Homo sapiens: one gene and its partners. The protein of the gene in region 6 purifies or fractionates together with the protein of the main gene of each other region. This does not show direct contact. Each region holds a gene or a part of one and is shown on either strand. Other genes may lie near its edges.

Region 1 (4,006 bases), on a different chromosome or scaffold from region 6:
TTTTTTTTGTATTTTTAGTAGAGACGGGGTTTCACCATGTTGGCCAGGCTGGTCTCGAACTCCTGACCTCGTGATCCACTCATCTTGGCCTCCCAAAGTGGGATTACAGGCATGAGCCACCGCCCTGGCTGGGAATTGCACAGCTTTCTCAGCCTGTCGGTTGCCCATGCCTGTCCTTTGTAAGTTGTCTGTTTTCCACTCCAGCCTCTGTTGCAGGCCAAGTTCTCAAACTCTACCACTTCCTGCCTATCTCATTGGGTGTCAGTTCGAATCCAAGGTCAAACCAAGGAAGGTACCTTTTTCTTCCACAAGGCAACAGGGCAATGAAACAGCCATTGAGTAGCATTTAAGCAGTTTATTTGCCCAAAGCCACATTCTAGTAAGTGGCAGAATTAAATAGTTAAGAGTCTGACAGGCGGTCCTGGGTTTGCACCCTGCTGTCATGTGCTGAGTGATCCTGGACAAGTTATTCAACTTAAGTCCCCAGTTCTTGGTTTCAGGGTCCACTGAGGCTTCTACCAGGTTGCTGCCTCACTCATTAATTCACACAAGAAAGTTGGGGACTCTTGGGGATTTGAAGCTGAGAAGCTGCTGTAGTGCAAAGGGCTGGGGTTGACTCCTTCAAGGGGTGGCTAAAGAAATGTTTAGAGTTGTTTAGAGTAGGAAGTGCTTCTCAGGTCCCATGGCCACGTTCTGCCTAGAAGTCAAAGGTCAGCGGGGGTCCACAGCAGGTTGGGTCCTGGGGAAAGCAGCCCCCTAGTGACAGTTAAGGCTCAGATGCCAAGTCCCACTCCAGGACTGAAGGCTTTCGGGCAAGCGGCCTAGGGTGTAGGTTTCCCCCATCCCAGTCCCTCCCTGCCTGCGCTCACTGGGCCCGGGAGGACACCCATTGTTCATCATGCTCTGCGCACCCTGATGTCTCTAGAGAGCCATTCATTCAACAGATACCTGCAGAGCAGGGCCTGCATATCGAACCTTTTCCCTAGCCCTGGCCTCCTCACACATTTTATGTGCACTTGCTGTGAGCAGTCCACAGTCTTTGGCGTGCACAGGGGCACAGGCTGTTCCGGAAGCCGCCAGTCTCCAAAGTTCTGGCGGGAGAGAAGGGAGGGGAGAGGCTGAGTCTCAAGCCGCTAGGGAGCGGCTCTGCCCCAGGGCCGAGGGTGGAGCTTTCTGGGTCGGCCGGGAAAGGGCTGGGCTTAGCCTACAAGTGAAGGCAGGGCAGCGTTGGCGGGCGCTCCCTTGAGAAGTCCAGGTGGCGGGCACCTCCGAGCCGATTCCCAGGATCCCCCAAGTGGCTCTGAGCTGCCGATCACCGGATGCCCCAGATTCCTGGGACCCAATCCCGGATTTCAGAACCTCAGGACCTTGCAAGTCCGAGCTAGGATTTCTCCCTGGACTTTAGATTCCTGGAACGGGACGTCAGGCCGTATTCCGGATCCCTAGATCCCGTGGGAGATTCTCCGATTCCGAACGGATTCCAGATCCCAAGATTCCTGATCTGCCGGCCCAGGCTCCTGCCCCGCCCCCGGTTCCCAGTGCGCGGCGCCCCGCGCCTGAGCGCCCCCGCATGGCGGGGCCGTGTCCCCGGTCCGGGGCGGAGCGCGCCGGCAGCTGCTGGCAGGACCCGCTGGCCGTGGCGCTGAGCCGGGGCCGGCAGCTCGCGGCGCCCCCGGGCCGGGGCTGCGCGCGGAGCCGGCCGCTCAGCGTGGTCTACGTGCTGACCCGGGAGCCGCAGCCCGGGCTCGAGCCTCGGGAGGGAACCGAGGCGGAGCCGCTGCCCCTGCGCTGCCTGCGCGAGGCTTGCGCGCAGGTCCCCCGGCCGCGGCCGCCCCCGCAGCTGCGCAGCCTGCCCTTCGGGACGCTGGAGCTAGGCGACACCGCGGCTCTGGATGCCTTCTACAACGCGGGTGAGAGCGCTGGGGGCGGGGCCGGATCCGGGCGGGACTCAGGGTCCTGGGAGGGGACCAAGCCGGGCTCGAAGGCTCAAGGGAGGGGCCGAGAGGGGTACCGGGTCTAGGGGACTTAAAGTGAGCTAAAGCTGAAGGGCTTGGGACAGGGCCGTGAAAAAAGTGGGATTTAGGGGATCTGGGGCGCGGCCGGGCTCGGGACGAGACAGGGATCCGGGCGCGGCTCTAGGGCTCGAGGTTGGGGCTTAGGCACCCTTCAGTCGGAGCGGTGCCCAGCCAGCGGGGCAAGGATGGGGAGGGGCTTTGGAACTCTGGGGCGGGGCGGGGAGCGGCGCGGGGCTGTGGTGTCTCAGGGGTGGGGTTGGAGAACTCAGCCTCACCCTCAGGAGAATGTCACGCGGATCTCTTGAGGACAATTACTGGGAGAGGAGCTTGGACTTAGGGAAAGGGGCCGGGAGGCTGGAGTTCAGGAGTCCTAGCATACTATTTCCAAGGATCGGGCTAGGAGAGGCAAAAAGAGAAGCGAAGGGGCCCGACGGGACTGGATACTGGGTGAGGGAGCTTAGGTTAAGTGGCCTCAGCGGCCCAGAAAGAATGGGCGGGGAAGGGGCGGGGAAGTGGGCGGGAAAGGATGGCTCAGGGGCGGGGCCAGAAGGAGGCTATTCCCCCGCGAGTCACTCCTCCCTCCAGCCAGCCCGGATGCTCGGCCCCCATACTTACTTGCTTATGCTAGAGTCCAGTAGCTGTGCTTCCTGGATGTCCATGAAATCGTAGCCTAAAATGAAGGCTGACCCGACCACTCGGACACAAAGATACAATTATCGACAGACACAAATCGCATACATGTTGACTCATGCAGGCCCTAGCAGACGCTGTCACACACACAGATACAGTCAGACATAGTAAGCTATACATGTCACAGATATACACATACATACATTTAGGCACAGCGTTGTCTATGCACACTGATGGTAGCCCCTTTCAAGAGCCTGTGCTGAAGACCAAAGGGAGGGGACTTCTATGTTTGCGCAACTCCCACCTCCTAAATGGCCCGTAACAGACTCAACTGGTCCACAGCCTCCCTTCCCCCATGCCAGGTGCTCACAGGCTCTGAACCGTGGCCTGAGGGTCCCAACCCAGTGAGCCCAACTCCTCTCCTGCAACACTACAGAGATCAGTTCTGTGAAAGTGCCAGGGGAACCCTAAAAAGGGCCGACTGAAGCCCAAAGCAGAACCAGACCCTACTGGAGTCCCACAGCAAGGCAGGTCAAGCCAGGATGGACCCCGGCTCCTTCCCCATCAAGCTGGGCTTCAGGGATCAGCGCCACCCCCTCTGTGCCTGCAGATGTGGTGGTGCTGGAGGTGAGCAGCTCGCTGGTACAGCCCTCCCTGTTCTACCACCTTGGTGTGCGTGAGAGCTTCAGCATGACCAACAATGTGCTCCTCTGCTCCCAGGCCGACCTCCCTGACCTGCAGGCCCTGCGGGTAGGTGGCCTGGGGCTGGTGGAGGCAGGCACAGGGCTGGGGTAAGGCCTACACAGAACACCAGTATCTGACTGTCTGCCTCCTGCAGGAGGATGTTTTCCAGAAGAACTCGGTGAGCAGAATCCACCTCTCACTCAAAAGTGCCCTTTGACTTCCGCTATGACCTCTGACCTCCACTAATCCCCCTGGCCTCCTCAGTCACCTAACCCCCCACTGACATCCCAAGTATTCCTCTGTTTCCTGTTGCCTCCTCTCATGACGGGTGCCCCTTTCCTGCGATTCCAATTCCCACTGATGCTGACCTTTGATGCTCTCACTCCCCTTGTCTAGCCCTGTGCTGACCTCTGACCTCACTGATTCCTGCCTCCCTCCCACCAGGATTGCGTTGGCAGCTACACACTGATCCCCTATGTGGTGACGGCCACTGGTCGGGTGCTGTGTGGTGATGCAGGCCTTCTGCGGGGCCTGGCTGATGGGCTGGTACAGGCTGGAGTGGGGACCGAGGCCCTGCTCACTCCCCTGGTGGGCCGGCTTGCCCGCCTGCTGGAGGCCACACCCACAGACTCTTGGTAATGAAGGCCCCCAGGGAGGGTGCTCCAGGAGGGGGCTGG
Region 2 (3,500 bases), on a different chromosome or scaffold from region 6:
AAAGGTAGTGGGAAAACACTCTCTTGTTTGGTAGAACAGAGGATTTGGAGAGAATAAAAGAGAAGGATGAACTAAGGTAAGTCAGATAGCAGTAATGATGGTAATACCAAATCTGGTTTCATTCCGTATGTCATTGGCAATGGCCACTTGCTAAAGCTTTCTGAGGACAAAGCTCCATTAATAAAAATCTATCAGTAATACAGAAGTACTGGAGTCCTCAATATGGCCTCACAAAACTTGGAAATCAGACTGCCCTATGAGAGTTAACAATGAAATCAAGACAGATGCTATCCAAGCAAGATTCATGCATTCAACAAATATCAGAAGACCCACTATGTTTTAGGCAATGGTGACTCACTAGCATACTGTCCTCATGGAGTTTACATTCTAGTGGGTAAAGACAACAGAGAAGATTAAGTAAAATACTACCTGGCAAGTGATAAATGCTAAGGAGAAAAAACAAGGCAAAGAAAAGGGACAAGAAATGTTAGGATTTGCAACTGGACAGAATAACCAGAGAAAGCTTCACTAAGGAGATGACTTCTGGTTAAGTATCTGAAATGAGGGATACAGAAGGAAAAGAACTCCAGAGAAAAGAACAAATGCAAAGATTATTCAGCGAGAATACGTGATTGGAACAAAGACCAGAAGAAGAACATGTAGGAGATAAAGTCAGAGATAAATGGCAAAGAGGTAACATCCCAGAACATAGGGACTTAGAAAAAGATGGGAAGCCACCGGAGGGCTTTGAGCAGAAAAGTGACATGTACTGACCTACATTTTAACCAGATCACTCTGGATGCTTCATCGAGGACAGACTGCTGGGCAGGAGCAACAGCAGAAGCAGGGAAACCATAAAAAATAGTATTTTAATAATCTAGAGGTCACAATGGCTTCTTCCAGAGTGGTTAGAATAAGGGTGTGGTAAGAAATAGTCAAATTCTGGGTTTATTTTAAAGACAGAGCCTACAGGATTTACCAGTGGACAACAAGTGGATTGTGAAAGAAATAGTAGTCAAAGATAACACTAATGTTTTTGACCTGAGCAACTAAAGAATGGAAGTGTCATTAACCAAGGGCGGGCAGACTGTAGGAGAAGCTGCAGTATGCAAAATTTTGACACATAACCAGTCCTGCAAAACTCCCCTGCTAGTAATGTGATAACAAATGAACCTATCTAGAGGAAAAATGTCCAATGCTGTTATACAAAGACGTGACTTGGTTTTGGTGTTGGGTACATATGCCTATTATGAAACAAAATGCCATCAATACTTTGGACTATCTAGTTAACTTCCTTTGTTCTAATTCTATGCTCCATTAAAACATTCTAACTTGATTTCCCATGTTCCTGACCTATCTGAAAAAAAGAACTTAGTTCCTTCTATATGTATTAAATTGTTATTCCAGTTTTATACATTAGTTTCATAAGCCTAGCTAAAATGAGTTTATCCCCGAGAGAGACCTGGTTTAGTATCCTGATCAATCAAGCTTCTGAGCTAAATAAGCAGAGGACTAAGATTTGAACCACAGCAAGTTCACTAAGATAATGGTTCTCAAGTATTCCAATAATTATTGGGAGGCTTATTACAAATAATTCCTGACAACTGGTTCCAAAAAATTCTGATTCAATATACCTAGGATGGAACTCAGAAATCTGTTTTTGAAGGAAACACAGATTCTGCCATAGGCAAGGATGTTCTAAGATACTGTCATACTGTAAAGTTTCTCCTTGGCCTTGTTACGGGGACTTTAGTGATCTTTAAATTTCTAGAGCCATGTTTTTCAACACCTGTTTAATAACACAGCATAAATACTAGAACTCTTCACGGCATACTTAAGCTCAAAGAGCACTAAGCAACTTTTTTTTTTTTGAGACAGAGTTTCACTCTTGTTGCCCAGGCTGGAGTGCAATGGCGCAATCTTGGCTCACTGCAACCTCCGTCTCCTGGGTTTAAGCTATTCTCCTGCCTCAGCCTGCTGAGTAGCTGGGATTACAGGCATGCGCCATCACGCCCAGCTAATTTTGTATTTTTAGTAGAGACGGGGTTTCTCCATGTTGGTCAGGCTGGTCTCAAACTCCTAGCCTCAGGTGATCCGCCTGCCTCAGCCTCCCAAAGTCCCAAAGTGCTGGGATTACAGGCGTGAACCACTACGCCTGGCCCTTCTTTTTTTTTTTTTTTTTTTTTTTTTTTTTTGAGACAGAGTCTCGCACTGTCGGCCAGGCCAGGCTGGAGTGCAATGGCATGATCTCGGCTCACTGCAACCTCCTACTCTCAGGTTCAAGTGATTCTCCCAAGTAGCTGGGACTACAGGCGTGTGCCACTATGCTGGGCTAATTTTTGTATTTTCTCTAGAGATGGGGTTTCACTATGTTGCTCAGGCTGGTCTTGAACTCCTGGGTTCAAGTAATCCGCCTGCCTCAGCCTCCCAAAGTGCTGGGATTACAAGTGTGAACCACCGCACCTGGCCATTCAGCAACAATTATAATGCAATCAGGACCACAGAACACCAATGTTTCAGTGTCTATAAAGGCATCCAGGTTACTACATGATTAACTTGGTTGCTGTTTAGGACTATGTCATTATTTCATCAAAACTGCTTACTATCTTACTATCTACTTAAAGGAATCAAAATGGGTAAGAGCATAGGCTCTGACAGCAGACAACAGCATTGTATCCACTCTGCCATTTATTAGTTCTGGACACTTGGGTCATATATTTTAACCTCAAATGTGCCTGTGCCTCAGTTTACTCTACTGTAAAATGGGCATAAGTATCTGTCCTATAAGGATGTTGTGAGATAAATACATGGTTAATACATAGTTAGCACAAAAGAAGCACTTAAATGTTACCCAGATGTAAAACAAAGAATCCACAAAGCAAAGTTCTCTTACCACCTTCCTTTGCTACAGTCTGCCATTATGCTGTTTTCTTGTTTAAACAGTATGTTATACCATGACTACACTCAACAGAATTCGATCAATGTTCCATTTCACTGACACTGCCTTAACAATCTGTATGTGCAGTTGTACCAAAGATAAATTTTACACACTGCTCAAAATTTTGTAATACGTTATAGCTGTGAAGAATTTATGATAAACCAGGAAGGATGTATAAAGAAAGGAGAGGCCTGAGGCAGAGAGATAATTAAAAATGTTGTTAAAAATAATTCAAGCATAAAAAAAGGTCCTGAGTGAAAATAATGGTAGATGGAATGTGGACAGGTTAGAGATATTATTAAGTGAAAAGTGTGTCTGTATATGCATAGAATTAGAAAAGATACAAGAGGAATTGGTAATATTGGCTACTTGTCAGGGAAACTGGGTGGGTGGAAGACAGGGGCAGGAGGCGACTTTTTACTTGTGCCCTGTCCCACCATTTTAATTTTTTTTTTTTTTTTGGTAGAGACCGGGATCTCACTATGTTGCCCAGGCTAGTCTCAAACTTCTGAGCTCAAGTGATCGTCCCGGCTTAGCCTCCCAAAGTATTGGGATTACACGT
Region 3 (3,500 bases), on a different chromosome or scaffold from region 6:
GACACTGAGGTGATGCACAGGGCGAGGGACGGGGGCTGAGACACAGAGCTCCCGTGTCCTCTCTGGGTGGGCCCCCCTCCAGAAACATCTGGAAGCTATCTTCAAACCCAGTCCATACATAGGCAAGACTGTTTGGCCACTGGTGATCAGCTTAACCTTCAGCTCCCCCACCCCTCACCACTCCCCGAGGTTGGGGATCGGGGCTGAAAGTCCCAACCTTCTAATCCTGCCTAGGTCTTTCTGGTGACCAGCCCCTGTTCTGAAGCTACCCAGGGGTTGCCGGCCCTTAGCCAACGCATTACGAAGACATCACTGACGAGCCCGAGGATTTTAGGAGTTGTGTACTAGGGAAGACCAAATACATATTCCACAGTATCACACAAGCTGAACTAGCCCTTTTTTTCATGGAATGCCATTTTTATTTGAAAGAACAACTGACCAACTTTGGTTATTAAGAATTTGGTATCTGGCAGAAATTGACTTGAAAATGAACACACTGCGTCCCTCACTTCACAGAAAGTAACTGACAGTATTTGTTACCAATGATAAAATCCAAGCTTTCAAGAGAAAATTAGAATTTTGGAAAACTTTTCTCTACTACTGCTAATTTGACAGTTTCTCACTTTTTCTTCTGATGAGATCAGTGATGACATTAAAAAATAGGATTTTCTTCAAGTTTACATAATGGAATGTGTTAACATTTAGAAAAAAAAACAACTCCATGTAACAATATTTCCAAACAACCCCCGTGTGATGTTACCAAATCATGTCCATGAGCAAAAGACCCACTCTGAGCACAAGACAGACCTCAGGGTTCTGACGGAAGAGAGTACAGAAACGTCACTGACTCCGAAAGGCCGGCACACTCAAACACGCTGCCACCTGGCGAGTTATGGTGCATCGCTAAGAGCCTCCAGGATGACCCCTCTTCTGCCCACATGGAAGTGTGACGCCACATTTTCCTTACACATTTCAATAAAGCAACTGGAACACACGGAATGCAGAAGCAGGTCTGAGAATCCAGCCGTCACCTCTTAAACCTCATATTTTAAAAGGATGTGCAAAAGTGTAAAACAACACTGTTCTTCTTGCTTAATCTTTTTGTTTTTGAAAAGTTGTTTCTCATTAAAAAGGTTATGTTAACATGTAGTAGATTCTTTTAAAGTAAAATAAATATTGTAAGTTGTTCTGTTTTAATTTCAAATATAGAAAACATCAACAGCGATAACCAGCACAAACAAAGGCTCTCTGGATCCTCAATATAACTATTAAGAGTATAAAATTATTCCAGCACCAAAAGACTTTGCAAACCAACTCTAGGTCAGGGTTTAGCAAACCACAACCTGGGCGACATCTGGCCAGCTGCCTGTTTTCTGTAGGCATGCTCCTGTGGAAGCAGGGCACAGAGCCACGCCCATCCATCTCTGCAGGGTCTATGGCTGTCTTCCTGCTAAAGGCAGAGTTGAATTCAGTCGTTGCAACAGGGACAGGATGGCCTGAAAGTCTAAGATACTTACCATTTGGCCCTTTACAAAAAAGCTTGGCCACCCCGAAACTAGAGTAAGCCCATTTTCCCAATCTTTATTATTGCAGTAACTTCCTATCTCCATTCTTACCCACCACCATCCACTCTCCAAAGGGCAGAGTGACCTTGTTAAAAACAAAGCTGATGTCGCTCCTCCGCTTAGGATCTGAAAAGCTCACAATCACTCAGAGTCCTGAGCACACGATTCAAGTCCTTTATTCATCATCCTGTGGCCCCAGCCAGCCTCCTGCTCATCACAGCCACTCCCTTTTCTGCCAGAGGACCATGCCAAGCACTGACCTCTCAGAACATACCATGCTCTGTCCAACCTCCACACCAAGCACTCTCCACCTGGAACATTCTCCTCCCCTTCCCTTCCTCCCTCTTCTTATACCCTGATGTCCTCCCCTCCACTCCCTACCCAAGTCTGTGTACTGGGTACTTCTTCACATTGCCTCAGTGTGCTCTGGTCCAGCCATGGTGCAAGGACCCACCTGCTTGTCTGTGTCCAAACAGCGTTTCCTGAAGGCAAGAACTGCATTTCTATTTCCAACAGCCAGCACTAGCAGCCCTTTGGTATGCTGTCGTGAACTTTTCAGATGTGCCAAGCTGAAAGCTGGCCCCTGCATTACCCTTCATTTTTCTTAAACTGGCTCCCTGAAGTGACAGAGTCAGCTATTTTCCTATGCAAGAGGGTCTCTTAAGACAACAGCCTCTGAACAGTTACCAGTTAACGTGTTTGTTTGTCAGAGCTTTCCATACATTTTCTGGAATCTTCACAGCAACCCTGTAATGGTCACAAGTAATAGTACCCGTTTAACAGATGAGAAAAGAGTAAGTAACTTCCCAAGTTAACACAAAGCCTGAAGAGGGTGAAAAAGGGATGTGTACCAAATTCCACGTGCACAATTCCTCTCCATCACCTGGTAATATCATGACATTCCATATGCTGACTGACATCCAGTGGGAGAGACGAGCCTAATAATACATGTGATAAAATAAGGGAACCACAAGCAGGACACAGCCAATTGCTAAACAACATGGAACACAGTGTGAAAGGGAAATCTGGAGTCTAAGACGACACTGAACGCTGAGGGGAGCTGGAGCAGGGACTCGCCAAGTGGGATTGGAGGTGGATTTAGAAGGATCAGCAGGGCTTAGGGAATGGACAGGAAGCAAAATAAATACTCTAGGCAAAGAAAGAAACAGGAGCAAAGATCAAGGGATGGGAATAATCACTGAATAATAACGTAAACATTAAGAGGCCAGGCCCAGTGGAAGGGATCTGGGTAGATGGACATGAAGCAGGTAAGGAAAAACAAGAAACTGCTATTTTTGTGTTTAAATATAGCTAAAACCAAGCCCCAATACTTTAAAATACAAGAGAATTAACAGTTGTATCTAATACTTGAAAAGCACTTTTCAAGTTGCAACAGCACTGCACATTGTTTGATCTTAACAAAAAGCTTCTGATTTAACTTCTAGATAAGCGAGCTGAAGCTCAGAAAGGGGCCCTCAGAGTTGAAAACAGCAGACACAAACCCAACCTGGAACTTCCCATCAGAACAGCAGACTGCTTAAAATCAGGGAACGTGGAAAATCACCAGGTATGATTCAATACCACCACATATCTTGTAAACTTAACTTCACGATGTAACGATGACCAGGCCAGCCTCCTGAGCGTTAAGATGTGGCTGTACTAAGCATGATGAGTCTGTGAATCTTTTTTTTTTTTTTTTGATATGGAGTCTCGCTCTGCTGCCCAGGCTGGAGGTGCAGTGGCGTGATCTCCGCTCACTGCAAGCTCCGCCTCCTGGGTTCATGCCATTCTCCTGCCTCAGCCTCCCCAGTAGCTGGGACTACAGGTGCCCGCGACCACACCCAGCTGATTTTTTGTATTTTTTTTAGTAGAGACGGGGTTTCACCCTGTTAGCCAGGATGGTCTCGATCTCCTGACCTCGTGATCCGCCCGCCT
Region 4 (2,201 bases), on a different chromosome or scaffold from region 6:
TTTTTAAATTAACAATCCATCCTTATTGTAGAACTTTAAAATAATTTTTTGTTTACTAAGTGGTTTTTGTTTTTTATATATGTTTATTTTTTTCCCTTTCTTGTTTACCAAGATTATTTATAAATATATATATATATATGCTTATTGTCAAAATAGAAACATACGTAAACTCTGGGAACTTAAATATACTTATGCAAAAACTAAATTTAGAAAAAATAAATAATTTTAAAAATTTCCATTCCAATTTTTTACCTTGCAGTTGTTGATTAAATGTATTAGCAAATTTTGAATGAAATGCAAATTTCATTAGAAATTTAGCCATTAGATAAAGTCAGAAAGTACTGTTGTTTTATGCTCATCTTACTATTACTGATTTTTTGCTGCTTTATGTTTTTTTTCTTATTCTTACTAAATCTTAGCAGTGTCACTAGTAATAGTCTTACAAAGTAGGCAGGTTTTTTTAGGCTAAGTGATTAGTGACATAGTTAATGATTAACAAAAAAAATAGCAAGAATGAAAATTAGTCAGATACACCTCTGAATTTGTCTCCTGCTAAATATTTTGTGTTGCTTATTTTCCCTTGTGCATGGGTATGTTCAGGTATCAGTAAGATGCATGTGCATGAGCTCAAGGAACATGACTACTGGAGTTTCCATTACACATTGTTGCGTGCCTTGTAATTTTCCCCAAAGACGGTAGGGATTCTTTTGTTTTCTTAAGTAGCCCAAAGAATCTTTAGTTAGAATTAAGAAAAGTATAAACTATATAACATCAATAACGGGGGAAATTATATTTTTAGTGTTCTCCCTTTCCTGGAGTATTTGCATAGGGAATTATGAAATGAAAATTTAATGTAAAATGCATATAGTAAAAAATACTAGTAGTTACTTTAGTTATATTTAAGGACACATCTGTACGATCAGCTAAAAGAGAAAAGGTGCTGAAAGAGAGGACCATTATTTTATTCTCTCGTTTCCCACAATTCTTACTGAATTTTTTATTCAAAGAAGGTGACATTTTTGCAGTTGTTTTTTGTTCTTTGTGATTGTTGTGATGTGGCTCCTCCTTAACTGACTTCATTTGAGCTGCTGATGCACTCTTATGCTCTCATGGAGTGGAGAACCGATTCTAGTATAGAGGGGGTAGCAAATCTTTAAAACACGACTTACAACATGGGGAACCCGTTGTGGTAATCTATGCTGATGTTTTATGTGCTTTTGCCTTCATTTTGCAAAATGACTTAATGCTGGGTTACATGTCTCTCTTTTTATGAATTCAGTCCTGCTCAGAGTGAAGCTTCTCCAGTGGCTTCTCCAGATCCCCAGCGCCAGGAGTGGTTTGCCCGGTACTTCACATTCTGAAAGAATTGTGTTGGCACAGCTCTGTATAGACTGTTACTAAGAGCATGACTTTATACAGATTGTTATGTAAATAGGCTTTCCTATGTCAAACACTGTGAATGAGAAAGTATTTGTCTCTCCAACTTGAAAATGCACTGTATTTCCTGTGATATTTATTGGAATCATTCTATAAGGTACTATATTATGTGTGTAATTATAACTGTTATTTTTATTTGAGATGGAAGAGTCTTTAACCTTTGTAATTACTGCATAATAAATTTTGTTAGAATCAAACAATGCTTTTTATTTTTTTCTACGTTTGCTTTAATTTTTAAATATTTTTTAATTCCAGGTAAGACTTGTCAACAAGTTTTACTGCATTATAATCATGTCATATCAAATTATTTGACTTCAGTAATCATAATAGAATCAGGATAGGGAAATAGAAACTCTTGTTCCAGTACAATGTGTAATTTTAACTAAATTGTTCTCTAAATTTACAAAGCTAGAATGAAAGTGCTTGTGTAAATTGTGGACTTTCAAGTGTATAAAATACTGTTGACTTTTAGGTGGTTTTTTTTTTTTCAGTTTTGATAGTTGAGATCTAGAACTTTAGTACAGTTAGTATCTATAATTAATACTATGTTTTATGGCCAAAAGTCACTGGGTAAAGAATAAATAGTCAATTTGATTTTAATTTGTCTTAAAGGCCAGTTTGATAGTTTTCTAAATTGGTGTAATTAATAGGGAGTGAGACATAGGGGTTTGGAGCTCAGGAAAAGAAAGACTGGGCTACAGATGTTTTGGAACATGGCATGTATGAGATAGAGAAATCCACAAGTGTGGATGAGAACAACAAGG
Region 5 (3,500 bases), on a different chromosome or scaffold from region 6:
GAGCAAAGGCTTCCTCTGATGTGGGGAAACAATGGATTCTGGCTGAGATATAACAGAAATGTAGAAATATTTATTAAGAATCCACATCTTTTTTACATAGACACTATGCTTGCTAACATATATTAGAGAAGAGCTACTTTATATTCAGTTTTCAAAACCTATATCCATAGGAAGTATGAAGACCTTAATTATAAACACTTTTAAATTCTTAATATACATTTACATACGTTCATCACATATGTTCACTGATCATATTTTGGTCACTTGTACAGAAAAAATACTGTATAGAAATACATTCTGTACATTCATAAAAGTAGGGTAAAATTACTTACCCACCTGCTGCCACTGGCACTTACCTACTCAAAATGAAGTAGGGGACGTGGAAAGATAACAGGACCAGTGGCCAACAGGGGAATACAAGTAGAAAGGCAAAGTAAGGGTTACTGCATAGTAGCATAGCTACTCTCAAAGCTGTTCAAGAGGAAGCACATTTCATGGCACTTCCCATAAGATTAATGGGGAGTACCTAATTTGTAACAATGACATACAATGTATTACATTTCATAACTTACAGTATATATGAGTAAATACCTGGTTATCAGATAAATTTTTTCACCTAACCAGTAATCTTTCCCAACAGTAAAACAAAATATTGGCATTTGTAAATTGCTTATACTATAACACAAAGCTATAAAACAACACACCTAACTCAAAACTTTAAAAATGTTAAACCATACTAAAATGTATTCAGGTATTAAAAATCTATAAAAACCAAATTTTAAAAAATCTATAAAAAGCAGAGGATGATGACTGACAGGCTTATGTTAAGACAAGGGAATGAAGGCAAAAAAGGTTTCAATTATTTGTGAGAGAGGACAATTTGAGTCAGAAACAAAACAGCATTCATGATTTCAATATATGGCACTACTGCTTGTGCTCCATTTTACTAAATCAGTTTTAAAAACTGTCTAATTTTGAAAATGTCTAAAAAATTATGATTCAAGACTTATTATTCATTTTTCAACCCATTATCCAGTTAGATAGAGACAAAGGAAGCACAATTTCTTCCAATACTTCTCTTCGTCTGTCATCTGAATGGGTAGAAGTCATAATCTGGAAGGTAAATCATGTCTAACTGGCCCACTTTACCTCTTCGTGCAAATTCCATGGGGACAGATAAAGTTGGAAAATGACACAAGGCACAGAATCCTCTATACACGCCTAACCATTAGTTGAACAAAGCCACTTTGTTCAACCAGTAAGTCCTCTCAATAAAATAAAAAGGAACTATTACTTTTTTTTTGTTTTTGAAACGGAGTCTCGCTCTGTCGTCCAGGCTGGAGTGCAGTAGCGCGATCTCGGCTCACTGCAAGCTCTGCCTCCCGGGTTCATGCCATTCTCCTGCCTCAGCCTCCCGGGTAGCTGGGTCTACAGGCACCCGCCACCACGCCCGGCTAATTTCTTTTTGTATTTTTAGTAGAGACGGGGTTTCACCGTGTTAGCCAGGATAGCTACGATCTCCTGACCTCGTGATCCGCCCGCCTCGGCCTCCCAAAGTGCTGGGATTACAGGTGTGGGCCACCGTGCCCGGCCGGAAATATTACTTATTTTAAGCATGATTTTTTTAAACTTTTAAAATTTGACACTTAAACAACTTAAAAACGTGCTATCCTTTAAGTCAATAAGAAGTAGACTTCAACTAATGCAACGACAAAAATCAACAGATGCTAAGAACTTTTATACTTTTTTTTTTGAGACCAAGTCTGTTGCCCAACCTAGACAGAATCTGTTGTCTCCAGTTCTGTTGCCCAAACTGGAGTGCAGTGGCACAATCTTGGCTCACTACAGCCTCAACCTCCTGGGGTTTAAGCAATCCTCACACCTCAGCCTCCCGAGTAGCTGGGACTACAGGTGTGTGCCACCACGTCTGGCTAATTTTTTATTATTTGTAGAGATGGGGTTTTGCTAGATTGCCTAGGCTAGTCTTGAACTCCTGGGCTCAAGTGATCCTCATGCCTCGACCTCCCAAAGTGCTGGGATTACGGGTGTGAGCCATTGTGCCTGGCTGACTTTTATACTTTGATTGAGAAGAAAGAGAAATTATAAAATCCATCTTATGTCTTGGGATTGTGTGTAGAACACAAGAGAGTAAAGAACAAGATAACTACTGGGATTCTTCCATTTCTCTATTCCATGATTTTTTAGAAACAGTGTTTATCTCAAGATTGTGTAATGTTCTAGAGCAGAACAGAGTGAAGGATGCGATGGCTACCAGAGGTTCTTCACTCCCTCTTTTCATGATTTTCTAGATACGACTAATTAAGAGCTATGAATGTTCTTCACCATATGCTTACTTTCCCCCACCTATAGATTGCAAAAGTTATATAGGTTATATAAATTATTAAATATACTAGCACACAACTGTCATCTGTTAGTGTTTGGCAGGTGTCCAGTGTACTGCAAGCCGGGTTTAGAATCAGATGGAATGGATATGAATATTTACCATTTATAATTCTATGCCTTTAGTTGTATGCAAAAGTGACTAGCATAGTATATGGAATATAGTTGGTGCTCAATAAATGTAACTTTCCCTTTAATAATAGATTAAGTAGTCAATATATCCTACAGCTTAATATACTTACAGCTAGACTGGTGAATATTTAATTTCCTGTAAGAATGGAAAACATCACTATTTGCATGATATTCTGAGAGTATCAGTGCTATAATATCTGCTAATATTTACCTGAACAGTTATTAGTACATGTCAAGAGTTTTCAAAATGCATTTATAGCAGATACGTCTATCATAAAGAAGGCATTTGAAAGGGAGTAATGGGAGCAAGCATTTACTGGGTAACTACTGCACGTTAGGTTCAGTATCAGACACTCTCTATATATTATCTCATATAATCACATGGTAACATACAGAAATAATCATGATCTCCAAAGTACTTTAGTTCCTCAAAGCAGATAGGCAGAATCATACTACATATTAAATCTAGCACATAATGTATTTATTCCTTCACTTAGCAGTTAATTGACTTTAGTAAGTACTAAAGAGAAAAGCACTTTTTTTTCCTATAAATGCAACATAGAAATGAAAATAGGTAATAAATATTCTCCTTTATGGAATAGAAAATAATCATTTAAGAAATAAAATAAAAAATGAACTCACAGTGTAAATCCTCTGGAAATCACTTCGGTTTCTTGAATGAGACGTAAAGCTTTTCTCACGAGGTTAGTAAAAGCTCGGCTGTTTGTGGCCATATCTTCCAAATGAACGCTGTATTTTTTTAGGGTCACTTGTAGTTTGGCTGTCCTCCATAATCTCAAAGCTCTTATGACCAGATACACAAATAGAATCACTCCCCATACCAGCCAGGAAGACACAATCCACCAAGTGGGAAGCATAACGAGCAAGCTAATGAAGGCAAATAGCATTGAGAGATCCCTGGGAACAAGAAAGGAAGAAAATGATATGCATCAGATTAGAGAAAGAAA
Region 6 (3,500 bases):
CCCACCAGACAGGGGACTTATCTTATACAGCGTCTCTGTTACCCACCTCAGACTGAAGGTTGCCCTGGGGCAGAGCCTGTGCTTCCTCTCTCTCAATGCCCCGGCACAGGACTCTGACACGGTGGATTCTTAGTAGAGTTGGGTCAGAACATCACTGGGTTTTGTCAAAGAGCAAAGGTTGTCATAAGCTTCCTGGGATGTGAGGTGCCAACCAAGTTTCTTCTAGTCTCTGTCTCTCGTAACCTGTGTTGTGGTTCCATCTGTCCCCTTCTGTGTACAGAGTTGAGGTGACCTGGCTTCTTTTTTTTTTTTTTTTTTTAATGAGTGATCCAAGGGAGGCAGGCTGGTGCCTAGGGGTGCCTCAGGAGCTGCTCACAGTGGGCAGGAAAGGGCCTGGGTGAGGAGGGATGGGAGGGGAGAGGGCAAAACAGGAAGAACAGCGGTCAGCTGCTCAGTGAGGAGAGGAGGCCGAGAAACTGGGCTGAGCAGGACAAAACCTCCCCTGTGAACCCTGCCAAGGGGAGGGGCCCCTTATTAAAACTTACTGGGGCATAGCCAGGCCCCCCTGGAGGGAGGGGGTCTGAGGGGCAGGGAAGGGGGCTGGGTGGAGGCAACTAGGACTCTGGCCTCCAGCCAGTCCTCCCCTGGGTGGCTGTTTCTGTGGCTGGGCTGTGGTTCACACCATCTGTAGCCCTTCAGTTGTCCCCTTCTCCATACCAAAGTGCTGTTTCGCCTAGTCCTGCCCTGGTCCCATTCATTCTTCAAGGACCTGGACTTGTTTCTGTAGGTAATCCAGTCACAGTATTCTCTAGGCTACATCAGCCCAGAAGTGACAGTGATCTAGGCACAAGTTCCAGCTGTGGCCCTAGGGAGCTTCCAGAGGGTAGAAAGTTTTCAGGAGAGGTCATGAGTGGAGAGAGTTTAGAAAGGGGTGTGAGATCCCTTGGGGTGGTGGGTGGGTCCCCTGAAAGCAAGAGGCGAGCTTGGAGCTCAGAGGTGGGTGGCTGGGCAACAGCTTCACACTCCACAGACCTCACTGCCTTGTTTAAGAGAAACCAAGAGTCTGCCCATCAGGTGGAAGGCCTGGCAGGGGCTGGTGGTGCTGTCCTTGCTGTTGCCGTTGCAGTAGGAGGGTTGTCAGTGTGAAATGTGGGGGTGGGGTTTCCCATTTCCCTGTTCTTCCCTTCTAGCCCTGGGCCTATGACAGCCTGCAGGGCTCGCTGAAGTAGTGTTAGGGCCCTGGGGGTGTCAGTGGTGATGTGGGGAATGGGAGTTGAGTGCATGATGGAATGGGAGAGCCTTTCCCTTCTTGTCAAAGGGTGCTGAAATCCCTCTTCTCCTGGACAGGGTGGCTCATAATCGGCCAGCCTTCTACTTCCTTGTTCCTATATCTGGGAAGACCTTTTTTTTTTTTCGGAGACAGGGCCTCATCCTGTTAACCATACAAGAGTCCAGTGGTGCAATCTCGGCTCACCACAACCTCCGCCTTCCTGGCTCAAGGGATTCTCCTGCCTCAGCCTCCTGAGTAGCTGGGATTACAGGCGTGCGCCACCACCGCCCGGCTATTTTTTGTATTTTTAGTAGAGTTGGGGTTTCCCCATGTTGGCCAGGCCGATCTCAAACTCCTGACCTCAAATGATCTGCCCATCTCGGCCCAAAGTGCTGGGATTACAGGCATGACCCACCATGCCTGTAGAAGAAGACCCTGGGAAGATCATTTGGACCACCCCACTTCCCCATTTCTCTTGCCATCTACAAGTTAGGGAGAGACCCCAAGGTGGGACCCCACATTCCTGGAGCTCCTGGAGATCTGAGGCCAGCAGCTATAGACCAGAAAGGGCTTGTCCTGACTTGGGAACTGGGCCCAGGGAGAGGGTCCCTGAGAGCCAGAGAGGATGGCAGTGACAATAGTAACAATAATGACAGCTGCCGTTTACTAGGTTTAGGGCATCCTGGGAACTGCTCTATATGCTTTGTCTTTACTCAGCAACAAATGTTTATTGAACACTTACTATGTGCCAGTCACTGTCTAGGAACTGAGGGTACAGGAGTGAACAAAACAAAAATCCTGCCCTCGTGGAGTTGGATTCCTTACAACTTCTGCTGTTAGTAGCTGCATTTCACAGATGAAGAAACTGAGGCTCAGAGAGGTTAAGTGGTTTGCTTCAGTCTGCATGACTGCAGCTTCTAAGCCCAGATTCCCCACCACTAGAATGCGCAGTTCAAAAGGGGGTGGGGGCCCACAGTGAGAACCAGGCTGGGGTTCCCCTGCCATGACAGAGACCAGGGAAGCCAGGTCTTCCCAGCTCCTGACAGTGCACCACGCTTACATCTGTCTGGGCTTGTTCTTCCAAAGGCAGCTGTGGCCACAGGATATCCCTGGGGAGAGGCACACCTCTTTTAACTGGGGCCCCTTTTTTGAATTTTATGTAAATTATAACGTAGTCAAAATTAGTCCATGCTAATTTCCTTCTAGCAGCCTCTAGATTCTGACACATTCTTGATCCCCTCTCCTTCACCCCCCACTTCACACTCACGACTCTGGGTACCTATCAGTGAAGCAAAGTGGTTAGCAAAGGGTGTGTATTTTTATTTTCATTTCACGCGTACCTCTTGAGCACCCATTATGTGTAAAAGAACAGGGCTGGGTGCTGGGGACCCAGAAGTGGATCTGACCCCAACCTTATTTGGTAGGCATGTATCTGGCACCCAGCCACCCAAGCAGGCAATCAATGAGGCACAAGATGTCAGTAGCTGGCCCCAAGGCTCCAGGGTGTCTACCCAAGTCCAAGAGAAGGGCTTGAATTTAACTCCTGTGCCAGCCTGTGGTCAAAGACAGAGTCCTTGGAACCCTCACCAGATGTGGTGGCCACCCTAAGGTCCTTGCCTGGAGTGGGGAGGAGGGGAGAGGAGCCTCCTGCTTTGGGTGGGAAGCGGAAGGGGCTGCAGAGTGGGTTCTCTAGAAGCATAGCGGTAGAGAGGCAGATTGCCACTCAGCCTGCCTGTCCTTCCAGTCTTTGTTCTGGGTGGCCTTCCTGGGCCACCCCAACCTGAACTGGGTCCCCCACTGTCCTCTCGCTGCCCTTTGTGTGTTTCCTGTATAGCATTTCACACAGGTTGATGGGTATGCCTGGGTATTTATTTGTTCAGCTCCTATTTTCCCGCACTGTGAGCTCTGAGGACAGAGACTGCCTTACTTTTATTCTCCTGTGATGTTGTAAGCACTCAGTACATTTGTTGACTGATTGAATGAACACATGGAAGCAGAATGGTGGAGTGGGAAAAACGTGGGGTCAGAGAGACCTGCTTTGAATTCTGGCTCTGTCCTCTAGCAGTGGTTTGCCACTCTGTCGAGTCATCCTCCATTCTGAGCTTTAGTTTGCTATGACATGTGGATAATGAGGCTACCATCTTGGAGGGGAGTTGTAAGAGTGAAATGACACTATGTGTATCAAATGTTATACAGTGGCTCAGAGTAAAGTGGCTGCTGCTATTATTGT
Region 7 (3,500 bases), on a different chromosome or scaffold from region 6:
TATCCATTTTTTCTTTTATAGTTAGTTGTGTCTTCTCTTAGTAATCTTCGTATATGCCAATGTCGTAAATAAATTCACCTATTTTTTTCTAGAAGGTTTATAGTTTTAGCATGTCCACTTCTAACTATGAAATGAACAAGACTGATAATCTGGCCTATCAGTTTATAAGTTTTAGAATTAAACACCTGGTTATTTACAGCCATAAATTATGATAAATGAACAGAACTAACAATATTTGGTGGGTGGTAGGTCAAAAAGATTAACACAACATAATGCTGGTGAATTTCCAACTCCAGGCTTGTTAATTCATCCATGACATTATCGTGGTCTTTTCTAGGAAGACTTTACTAGTAAGAAAAGAACTGAAATCTTCTACTCTTTAAAAGTCAGACTACCAAAGATATTCCTGATACACTGTCTCAGACAGATTATTTGCTGAATGAATGAATAATGGATTGATACACAGTTTTGCTTTGACATAAGAAATAACTCTGAGATGCTTACAAGATTGTCACCTTTACTAACTTACATGAATATAACATAAAGAACTAGCATACCTGTATTTCTTCACGTTCCTTTTTATCTGGAAAAGTTCTTGCAGCTGTAGTATACTTTTCAAAAACTTTACGTTCCTTTTGTAGCTTCCTCATCTCCTCCTTTTTAAACTCTTCTATTCGAGCTAATTCTTTTGCTTTCTGTTGTTCGAAGTCTGCAATTTCTTTCCTAAAATGACCAAACTATGTTATCACCTAAGGAGACCATCTCAGTGCAGTGATGTGCAGAACCTGCTGACAGGCTAGTAACTGCTAGTCCTAGTGAATTCATCTTCAATCCATAGGCCTGAAATAACAGCCAATCCACTCACTAAAGCATTCATCCAATAAGCATTCATTGGGTGCCTACGATGAATCAGGCATTCGACGAAGTAGTGGGGAAACCACAGTGAAAAAAACAAACATTCTAGCTGGGCACAGTGGCTCAAGTCTATAATCCCAACACTGGGAGGCTGAGGCAGGCTTGAGCCCAGGAATTCAAGGTTATAATGAGCTGTGATCGCACCACTGTATTTCAGCCTGGGCGACACAGACAGACTCTGTCTCAAAAAAAAAAAAATGTATTCCCATGCAGCTTCTTACATTCTATTGGAAGACAGACGATAATAAAGATAAATAAGTACATGGAATATTAGAAGCATTAAAGAGAAATAAAGCAAGGAAGAAGTTTAGAAAATATCAGAGTGGGAGGGTGAAACTGTGTTGTATGTGAGGGCTTATCTTGCTGAGATAACATGAAGGAAACCTGAAGAAAATGAGAGAGCCAGTCACAAGGGTGTCCACACACAGCAGTACAGGCAGAAGGAGCAGCAAGTGCCAAGGCCCTGAGGCAAGAATGTGCCTGAGGTGTTCAAAGAACAGCCAGGAGGCCAGTGTGACTAAAACACAGTGAGCAAAGGATGGGTAGCAGGAGAAGGTGTCAAAAAAGGAGGAGACAGGCCAGGCACGGTGGCTCACTCCTGTAATTCCAGCACTTTGGGAGGCCGAGGCGGGCAGATCAGGCCAGGAGCTGGACCTGAGGTCAGGAGTTTGAGACCAGCCTGACCAACATGGAGAAATCCCGTCTTTACTGAAAATACAAAATTAGCCAGGCATGGTGGCGAATGCCTGTAATCCCAGCTACTCGGGAGGCTGAGGCAAGAGAATCACCTGGGAGGTAGAGGTTGCAGTGAGCCGAGATCGCACCATTGCACACCAGCCTGGGCAACAAGAGTGAAACTCCATCTCAAAAAAAAAGAGGAAGGAGGCCTTGATCAGATGAACCGTCCAAACGCAGGCTGGCTCTGGATGTGTGTGAAGAGCACAGACGCGGGCAGCAGAGAGACCTGCTAGGAAGTGAATTTAATAACCAGAGAAAGCCAATGGGGTCCTGGTGGAGAGTGGCAGCTCTGAGGCAGTGAAGCAGTCGGGTTAGAAATGGACTGAGAGAGCAAGAGAAGACTCAAGCATGACTCCAAGATTTTCCACTGGGCAAATGGAAGAGCAGACTCATGTGCTGAGACAGGGAAGAAGAAGAGAAGAGTAAGTTCAGGAGGGAACGTCAGGAGCTCACTTTTTCTAAATGATCAATTTAAACACTCATCAGCTCTCCAGGTAGAGAGAACAACGAGGCAGTGGGATAGGAGATGTGGGCGAGAGAACTGGATCTGGGGCGTAACAGCATTTAAAGCCTTGAGACCGGACAAGTCTCTCCCTGCCTCACTGGAGGGAGAGCAGACAGAAAAGGTAAAAGACATTCTTACTGACTATTCAAAATGTCGACCGTGTGCACACAATCATATAGTCAAAGCAAACACTGGGGGAGGAATACTTGTGGCACATTTGAGAAAGTTAAATATCCTGATAAATGAGCAAAGATCACAAAGAAAGTTACAAAATAAACACAAATGACCACTAAATATAAAAGCATGCTCAACTTTATCAATAATTAAATAAATACAAACTTTAGCAGGTGAAAGATGGCATAATTATCAGGTTGGCAAGATTTGAAAGACTGCTAACGCTCAACTCCAGTGATGGGGAAAGGGGTGAGAAGAAGCCTCAGATGCTGACTGGGGCAATGGACATTCTTAAAATTTATCACAAGGAAGTAGATTTTTAAATAAAAAGTGTCTTATACATATGACGATATTCCCTGCAGAATAATTTCTAATGTGGAAAATTCTAAACAAGCTAAATTTCCATTAACTGATTAGTCACAGTGGCATTCATATAATACAGTCATTTCAAGGATACAGAAGACTAGGGCGTGCTAATAGGTAAGATGTCTATTATGTTGTTGAAATGAAAAGCAAGGCTGGACATCGTAGCTCATGCCTGTAAGCCCAGAACTTTGGGAGGCCAAGGCAGGGGGATCACTTGAGCCCAGGAGTTCAAGACCAGCCTGGGGAACATGGCAAAACCCCGTATCTACCAAAAATACAAAAATTAGCTGGGCGTGGTGGTGCGTGCCTGTAGTCCCCGCTACGCAGGAGGCTGAGGTGGAGGATGGTTTGAGCCCAGGAGGCAGAGGTTGCAGTGAGCCAAGATTGTACCATTGTACTCCAGTCTGGGTGATAAAGCCAGACCCTGTCTCAAAAAAATAAAAATAAAATAAAAAGCAGATTAAAGAGCCCATACAGTAGAGCCCAGGGCTCTACTGAACCACACTGCCTAGGCTGGCACTGAGGCTCTCTGTCACTGACTAAGGAGGTAAACTTAAAAAACTTGCTTCTCAGTGCATCAGTTTCCTCATCTGTCAATTGGGAAGGATAACACAATGTCTAAATTCGAGGACTGAATTTTGCTTAGAACAAAGCAAAACCGAAATAGGGAAAATGCTAAAAAAAAACAAAAAACAACAACAAAAAAACAAAAACCCAGCCATTATCTTATGACTTAAATGTTCTTTAAAAGAAAAAGATGTCCGTTTTGAAATAATGAAGCAGAGACGTTTTAAAAGTGATC

The links.
Region 1: the proteins of PLEKHO2 (region 6) and MAP3K6 purify together in Homo sapiens (affinity purification with mass spectrometry; 3 studies listed by BioGRID and IntAct, with this or other methods). This does not show direct contact.
Region 2: the proteins of PLEKHO2 (region 6) and CAPZA1 purify together in Homo sapiens (affinity purification with mass spectrometry; 3 studies listed by BioGRID and IntAct, with this or other methods). This does not show direct contact.
Region 3: the proteins of PLEKHO2 (region 6) and PPP2R2D purify together in Homo sapiens (affinity purification with mass spectrometry; 3 studies listed by BioGRID and IntAct, with this or other methods). This does not show direct contact.
Region 4: the proteins of PLEKHO2 (region 6) and FAM184A purify together in Homo sapiens (affinity purification with mass spectrometry; 3 studies listed by BioGRID and IntAct, with this or other methods). This does not show direct contact.
Region 5: the proteins of PLEKHO2 (region 6) and VEZT purify together in Homo sapiens (affinity purification with mass spectrometry; 3 studies listed by BioGRID and IntAct, with this or other methods). This does not show direct contact.
Region 7: the proteins of PLEKHO2 (region 6) and CPAP purify together in Homo sapiens (affinity purification with mass spectrometry; 3 studies listed by BioGRID and IntAct, with this or other methods). This does not show direct contact.

The regions. Positions count from the first base shown.
Region 1 is NC_000001.11:27,364,162-27,368,167, reverse strand, and holds the start of MAP3K6 (mitogen-activated protein kinase kinase kinase 6), read left to right. Parts: upstream 1-1,206; 5' UTR 1,207-1,570; coding exon 1,571-1,910; intron 1,911-3,255; coding exon 3,256-3,395; intron 3,396-3,483; coding exon 3,484-3,507; intron 3,508-3,773; coding exon 3,774-3,964; intron 3,965-4,006. UniProt on the Homo sapiens protein: Component of a protein kinase signal transduction cascade. Activates the JNK, but not ERK or p38 kinase pathways.
Region 2 is NC_000001.11:112,626,332-112,629,831, reverse strand, and holds part of CAPZA1 (F-actin-capping protein subunit alpha-1), read right to left. Parts: intron 1-3,500. UniProt on the Homo sapiens protein: F-actin-capping proteins bind in a Ca(2+)-independent manner to the fast growing ends of actin filaments (barbed end) thereby blocking the exchange of subunits at these ends.
Region 3 is NC_000010.11:131,907,508-131,911,007, reverse strand, and holds part of PPP2R2D (serine/threonine-protein phosphatase 2A 55 kDa regulatory subunit B delta isoform), read right to left. Parts: intron 1-3,500. UniProt on the Homo sapiens protein: Substrate-recognition subunit of protein phosphatase 2A (PP2A) that plays a key role in cell cycle by controlling mitosis entry and exit. Involved in chromosome clustering during late mitosis by mediating dephosphorylation of MKI67.
Region 4 is NC_000006.12:118,959,263-118,961,463, reverse strand, and holds the end of FAM184A (protein FAM184A), read left to right. Parts: intron 1-1,279; coding exon 1,280-1,361; 3' UTR 1,362-1,701; downstream 1,702-2,201.
Region 5 is NC_000012.12:95,266,307-95,269,806, reverse strand, and holds part of VEZT (vezatin), read right to left. Parts: intron 3,451-3,500; coding exon 3,175-3,450; intron 1-3,174. UniProt on the Homo sapiens protein: Plays a pivotal role in the establishment of adherens junctions and their maintenance in adult life.
Region 6 is NC_000015.10:64,844,915-64,848,414, forward strand, and holds part of PLEKHO2 (pleckstrin homology domain-containing family O member 2), read left to right. Parts: intron 1-3,500.
Region 7 is NC_000013.11:24,898,862-24,902,361, forward strand, and holds part of CPAP (centrosomal P4.1-associated protein), read right to left. Parts: intron 724-3,500; coding exon 558-723; intron 1-557. UniProt on the Homo sapiens protein: Plays an important role in cell division and centrosome function by participating in centriole duplication. Inhibits microtubule nucleation from the centrosome. Involved in the regulation of slow processive growth of centriolar microtubules.